Homo sapiens: one gene and its partner. The protein of the gene in region 2 interacts with the protein of the main gene of each other region in a pairwise test. Each region holds a gene or a part of one and is shown on either strand. Other genes may lie near its edges.

Region 1 (3,750 bases), on a different chromosome or scaffold from region 2:
CCACCGTACTGTTTTTCATAGCAGCTGCACCATTTTATAGTCCCACCAAGAGTGCACAAGGGTTCCAATCTCCACATGCTTTTTTCTTTTCTTGAGACGGAGTCTTGCTCTGTCACCCAGGCTGGAGTGCAGTGGCACTGTCTCGGCTCACTGCAACCTCCAACTCCCAAGTTCAAGCAATTCTTCTGCCTCAGCCTCCCCAGTAGCTGGGATTACAGGTGTGCGCCACCATTCCCGGCTAATTTTTGTATTTTTAGTAGAAACAGGGTTTCACTATGTTTGCCAGGCTGGTCTCCAACTCCTGACCTCAAGTGATCCACTTTCCTTGGCCTCCCAAAGTGCTGGGATTACAGGCATGAGCCACTATGCCCAGCCCAAACTCTACATCCTTGCTAACACTGATTATTTTCTGGGTTTTTAAATAGTAACCATCCTAATGAGTGTGAGGTGATCTCTTACTAATCTACAGTATTGCTCAACTTTATTTTATCTATTTTATTTTATTTTATTTTATTTTATTTTATTTTATTTTATTTTATTTTTGAGACAGAGTTTCACTCTTATTGCCCAGGCTGGAGTGCAGTGGTGCGATCTTGGCTCACTGCAACCTCCACCTCTTGGGTTCAAGCGATTCTCCTGCCTCAGCCTCCCGAGTAGCTTGGGATTACAAGCATGTGCCACCACGACCAGCTAATTTTTGTATTTTCAGTAGAGACGGGGTTTCTCCATGTTGGTCAGGCTGGTCTCAAACTCCTGGCCTCAGGTGATCTGCCCGCCTCGGCCTCCCAAAGTGCTGGGATTATAGGTGTGAGCCGCTGCGCTCGGCCACTGCTCATCTTTAACGACAGAGTGTGGGTGTTGGAATTGCCTTGAAAGACCATCTGATCTGGTCCCTGAATTGAACATTTTTCAAGAGCTTGAGGCCCTTGTAACTTGTCTAAGGTGTCCAGCCGGTCTACGTGAGGAGGTGTACTGGGGAGATAAGCAGGGGGCCATCCCTGCTGTCTCCTGTAGGAGACCCAAGGCTCTTGGTCCAGTGCCCTTGCCAAACATAGTGCTTGGCCTCCCAGCCATGATACGCAGACCAACCCATATATATCCGCCTGGCCTCCTGCCTCCTCCTCCCTCTCCAAACCTGGAGGCTTTCCATTCTTAAAACAAATAAAAGAAACCACCTACCCTGTTAGGGCCAGGGAGGGAGACACAATCCTAAACCTTTTTGCAAGTCCTCAGTTTCAATTGCAAGTAAAGTAGCTTTCAAATAGCCAGTCCTGGTTCCTGCAGTCCTCTTAGCACTAACTAGTGGAATACTGTCTGAACCCCAGTTTACTCATTCACAAAATGAGAATAAAAATAGCCCCTACCTTACTGGGTTGTTAAGATGATTAAAAGAGAAAATACATGGAGAGCACTTAGCCTAGCACACAATCAGTCCTTAATAGATGTTAACCAAAGACATTGGTAGGAGAGCCAGGATTGATTGTCTTGGGACTAGAACTCAGGTCTCCTGACTCCCGGTCCAGGGCTCTTCCTACAGGAGTACACTTGCTTCTCCTAGCTGAGAGATTGAGGAAGGTGTGTGGGGGTAAGGCAGTGCACAGAGAAATAAAAAGCCTCTTGCAGGCCAGCATTCAGAGGTTTAGGGGCCACAGTCTTAATTCAGAGCCTGTTCAGAAGGAGAGTTGCTGTGGCTGAGGCCCAAAGCCCTTGGAGATAGAAACCAAACAAACTCTCTAATCTCCCCAGCCTCGGCCCCAGCCCTGTGGAGCCCAACTCTTCACAGCTGAGACAACAGAGAAACTGGACTGAAGGCAAAGGGGCCAGGGATTGCAATTTGAGGGGGGATTGCAAAGGATTTCTGGGGTGTCAGGCAGCCCAGGGCAGCTCAGCTGTGTGGGTCCCCATTACCCTTCCCCACCCACCTCCAGGAAAACAGAAAAGGTAGGGCCAGACTGAGAGTCTCCCAACCGGCAGAAACCCTCTCCATCTCCCTGGTTCTGGGTGGCAGGAAGGGGGGTTGTGTTGTTTGAAGAATCATGGGCTTGGTTTGGTTCCAAGGTTCTTGGAGGAAAGGTGGCTGGCGTGCTCACTCCCTGCTGATTCTATTTCCTCCTCGAGCCCCTGATCTCAGACTACCTGTTGAACCTCAATGCCCGCCCTTTGGGGCACTGAAATTCCTGGGTTCTGTTTTCACCTCGTAGCACTGGGAAGTCTTCCAGAAGGTGACAGAGGTCTTCATCCTAGTGCCTGCGCTGCTGGGGCTCAAAGGGAACCTGGAAATGACCCTGGCATCAAGGCTTTCCACTGCAGTGAGTATCCTGGCTGGGAGGAGTGGGGCACAGAGAGGACTCTGGGCAGCACAGAGCCAGAGACTGGGAGAGGGCTACGAGCCCTTCTCCACTGCCCAGGCCTGGAGTGTGGGGCTGGGGTGGGAAGGGAGGGCCTGGCTGGGCAGGTGTAGGGAGATCCCAGGCTGGGTGTCCTGCTCCTGGGCAGGGGCTCCCTGCCCAAAGTGGTTCCCAGGCTTGGTTTCTGGATGTCCCAGCCACCCCTGGACTCCTGCCCCACCCCCTACCTCTCAACCACCTCGTGACTGTTTGTGCAGCTTTGACAGGCAGGCATCATGCTGGTTCCTCCACCCGCACAGATGGGGGCCTCCTCTGATCTCCAGCCCCTGCTTTGCAGCTGGGCGGGAGCAGAGCCAGGCCCTCCCAGCACCCCCAGCCCCCCGGCCATCCCATTCCCTTTACCCATGGCAGCTTGCTCTTCTTTAAGGAAACAGACAGAGAGGAGCTGCTCGTCATTCCTACCTCCCACAGTTGTGAGCCGTGACGATTCCGGGCCTGAACAGATACAGGGCCCTGGGCTGGAGGTGGGAGATGATAAAACTCAGGAGGCCAGGGATCTCCCTGCAGGGTCAAGAGTCTAGAGAAGGTGACAGACAGAAGTGGCATCCAAGTTAACCCACCCTGACTTGCCATACCCGACTTCTGGCCCATGCCACCCACTCCTTCCCAAATACTCTTGGAGCCTCAGTCCTGCACCAGCAGCTGACCTTTCCTTCCCTGGGATCGCAGGCTGGCTTCAGAGTCAGGGACTGGGTTGTTCTGACCCATGCAGGAATGGGCTGCCCAGATAAGCAGGGCAAAGGATAGAATTTGCCTCTGCTCAGCTGGTGTCCTGAGAGGAAGAGAGGCGACTGCCTAGGGGACCCCCTTCCAACCCCCCACCCAGCTGCAGGAGCCCAGCTTTAGCTCCTTCCCTTTCACCTCAGTTTCCCTGATCCTGCTTCACCTTTCCGGGACTGTCAGGTCCTGCTCTCAGAGTCTTAGGCCACATGTACTGCCTCATGATCTAGGCAGGAGCCTAATGGATGGAGCTTCAGGCCTTTTCCAGCCTGAAGCTCCAGCCCCTTGCCCTCCCTTTCCCAGGCCAACATTGGACACATGGACACACCCAAGGAGCTCTGGCGGATGATCACTGGGAACATGGCCCTCATCCAGGTAAGAAGGCAGGGACCAGAGAGGGTGGGCTAAGCTTCCCCTTAGTCAGGAATCTCTGAAAGGCTTAGGTCAGCCCCAGCAGGCTCCTGAGTGAATCTCCAGTATCCCACTGAGCTGGCTTCCCCCAGAGTAGCTCTAGGAGGTAACTAGGTTACCCAGGAAAACGCCCAAGATGAGGAGGGCCCAGCATCACCCATTCTGGTTCTCAGTTCTTGGTGGTGCACGTGCCTTTGAGTCCCAGCAGATC
Region 2 (3,540 bases):
AACACCAAGATGTGGGGCTTAGGGATGCACCTTGCTACTCAAGTGTCTTGGCTTCCAGGAATGGGCCAGTTTTAAGACACTCTACGAGACTAAAGGCTGCTATTTTAGGGCTCAAGTATAAAAAACTGAGGAAAGTGGTCACTATCTTTTTGCACAACAGCATCCTCAATTGGGTGTTAGGGAAGTGGGGATTTTTAAAGTTTAGGAAAATAGCATTCTTTAAATAGACATTCAGAATCTCAGGCAGGGCACCACGTATGTGGCAGTGGTGGAATTTTTTTAGCCATTTTGAGAGTAAAACAAGAGATGCAGTGGACCTTAGGAGACCTGGGGAAGAAGAGGAGAACATGGGGGTATGGAATGTGATTTTATTGGGTAGACTGACTTGTGTGCACACAGATGCACTTTTCTGAGGAATCCTAGGAGTAACAAGGAGACATTTTGCAAGGAGGAGATTAAGTCTTGTGCCATCAAACTAGTGAGGGCTCTGGTAAGAAAGAACTGGGAAATAAAAGTAAAAATAAATTGATTTAAAACTCATAGATCAGTGAAGCCAGAAAATACTAGAGAAACCTGAAAATACCTGTACACACACCTGTATACACACAAACACACACACACAAAATTTAAAATTCACAGACTAGTGAAGCCTATTACCTAAAAACTGTAGCCTTATAAAGAAAAGCTCAGTCCTCCTCAGAGAGTTACAAGGAAAGAGTAGCCATTTATTTAGGAATATATTTGACTTATGTGTATGCATGTAACCTTTTCTAGGAATCTGTACTTTCAACAGAGCCCAGACCCATGGCATAGGGTTAATGCCAATAAAAGTAGTTCAGTCTCTAGCTCAAAGATTAAGATTCCAATGCAAGGTTGCACTTATTCATGGTTAAATGAAGTAAAACCATTCACTGTTGTTAGGTGAACTCTTTAAACCTTCTTAAGACCCTAAGCTTCAGTATACGAACAGACTCATACACCTAGAGAAATCAAGTTGGTCTCTATTTGCACCTTGGATGACTCAGCATGAATCTATTCTTCAAGGATATGGCTTATTTAAAAACATCCCTCCGGTCCACCCCAGTTTTTGTCTATTCTTCTGTGATAGGTTTAAAACTACACCGTTTTTCTAAGGATGGGAAGGTAAGATGTTAGGTGAGTTATTGCTTATTTTAATTATTAATTTTAGACACCTAACACTGCCTATTAGCCTGGAAAATACTTTTACACTGACTAATATCAGTTCAATAAGATTTTTTCTCTAAATCATCTCAAGCTGTCTGAATCGTGAAAGAATATGAAAAGAAAAAAAATACAAATTCTGAAAACATAAGTAGTAGAAGAAATGTGTTCCTAAAGTAAGTTTAAAGCTATTATGAGGAAACTTTTCCTTAATCTTCACACTCCATACCATAGGGATTTTGAAGGTATAGTTTGAAGGAGATGTAATTTACCTCTTCCTTCATGAATAAATGAAGCATAGTTTGTCATTACTGCTAAAGTGCTGCTCAGGGGAGATAATGTAAGAAATAAAGCTCAGCCTTTGATAGCCTAATTACTTCTCAACTGTGGTGGTTATAGATGAGATTTTTCAGAAGATAAACTAACACACAAGAAAATAATTTTTTAATGATTAGTAAATTTTATATATATATCTCATTGGACTAAGTGTATTGCCAGCCATTTAATTAGGAATATATTTGACTATATTTTTAATGGCTTTCTGCAACATATTTCCACTCTAAATATATTAAAATGTGAATGTGGGAACACTTTTTAGAAAGATCAAGACGTTATAGTTAATATGGAAAAGCACTGGTAGAAAAATCACAAACTTTTATCATTTTAACTGGAGATATTTTCCCCTCCTAGAAGACTTTGAAATTGCTTCCTTTTAAAAAAATTTTTGAAAGCAGGAATTTGAGAACTTTAAAATAGTTCAAACAAGAAAGCAATGGTGAACAATTTCTCCCAAGCTGAGGCTGTGGAGCTGTGTTACAAGAACGTGAACGAATCCTGCATTAAAACTCCTTACTCGCCAGGTCCTCGATCTATCCTCTACGCCGTCCTTGGTTTTGGGGCTGTGCTGGCAGCGTTTGGAAACTTACTGGTCATGATTGCTATCCTTCACTTCAAACAACTGCACACACCTACAAACTTTCTGATTGCGTCGCTGGCCTGTGCTGACTTCTTGGTGGGAGTCACTGTGATGCCCTTCAGCACAGTGAGGTCTGTGGAGAGCTGTTGGTACTTTGGGGACAGTTACTGTAAATTCCATACATGTTTTGACACATCCTTCTGTTTTGCTTCTTTATTTCATTTATGCTGTATCTCTGTTGATAGATACATTGCTGTTACTGATCCTCTGACCTATCCAACCAAGTTTACTGTGTCAGTTTCAGGGATATGCATTGTTCTTTCCTGGTTCTTTTCTGTCACATACAGCTTTTCGATCTTTTACACGGGAGCCAACGAAGAAGGAATTGAGGAATTAGTAGTTGCTCTAACCTGTGTAGGAGGCTGCCAGGCTCCACTGAATCAAAACTGGGTCCTACTTTGTTTTCTTCTATTCTTTATACCCAATGTCGCCATGGTGTTTATATACAGTAAGATATTTTTGGTGGCCAAGCATCAGGCTAGGAAGATAGAAAGTACAGCCAGCCAAGCTCAGTCCTCCTCAGAGAGTTACAAGGAAAGAGTAGCAAAAAGAGAGAGAAAGGCTGCCAAAACCTTGGGAATTGCTATGGCAGCATTTCTTGTCTCTTGGCTACCATACCTCGTTGATGCAGTGATTGATGCTTATATGAATTTTATAACTCCTCCTTATGTTTATGAGATTTTAGTTTGGTGTGTTTATTATAATTCAGCTATGAACCCCTTGATTTATGCTTTCTTTTACCAATGGTTTGGGAAGGCAATAAAACTTATTGTAAGCGGCAAGGTCTTAAGGACTGATTCGTCAACAACTAATTTATTTTCTGAAGAAGTAGAGACAGATTAAAAACATTACTGTAGAGACCTCAAAACTAACTTGAAATTAAGGTCAACTGCAAAAATAAACACTTGGACATAGAGAGGCAAGCATGATCATATGCCAAGTTGTAGGACAATACATTCAACAGTTGTTCTAAAGCATTTGTTGTCTTCATGTATTTTGACATATTTTAGATTTAGTGATAAGTGAATAAGATTTGCTGATTCTTTTCCATTTAGCATTCTTTTATGGTTTTCTGGTTCCTTACTTTCTTCTCTGAGATTCCTACTCGTATCTTCAAATATTTTCAAGTTTTGTAGTTTCTCCCACACTCATGATCAGTGTTCAGCTGTCCAAAATACACAAAGGGGAAAGTAAAGCTCCTGCTTTACTTATAAGTTAGATTCTCTGAGGACAAAAATCTTTGACGTATATCTTGCTTGAGAAGTAGACACAGTATTATAAATTCTTGAAACTTTATTTTAATGTAAAAAGACTTTATAGAGAGCTGGAATGCAGAACTTTCTAGTGCTCAGAGATCATCTGAAAAATGCTTGAGCACTTTT

Evidence for each region.
Region 1: the proteins of TAAR9 (region 2) and SLC41A1 interact in binary tests that used the Homo sapiens proteins (3 or more experiments, as listed by UniProt).

The regions. Positions count from the first base shown.
Region 1 is NC_000001.11:205,799,512-205,803,261, reverse strand, and holds part of SLC41A1 (solute carrier family 41 member 1), read left to right. Parts: intron 1-2,201; coding exon 2,202-2,309; intron 2,310-3,431; coding exon 3,432-3,503; intron 3,504-3,750. UniProt on the Homo sapiens protein: Na(+)/Mg(2+) ion exchanger that acts as a predominant Mg(2+) efflux system at the plasma membrane.
Region 2 is NC_000006.12:132,536,336-132,539,875, forward strand, and holds TAAR9 (trace amine-associated receptor 9), read left to right. Parts: upstream 1-1,941; 5' UTR 1,942-1,954; coding exon 1,955-3,001; downstream 3,002-3,540. UniProt on the Homo sapiens protein: Olfactory receptor specific for trace amines, such as N,N-dimethylcyclohexylamine (DMCHA) and beta-phenylethylamine (beta-PEA). In contrast to mouse and rat orthologs, not activated by triethylamine, cadaverine (CAD) or spermidine.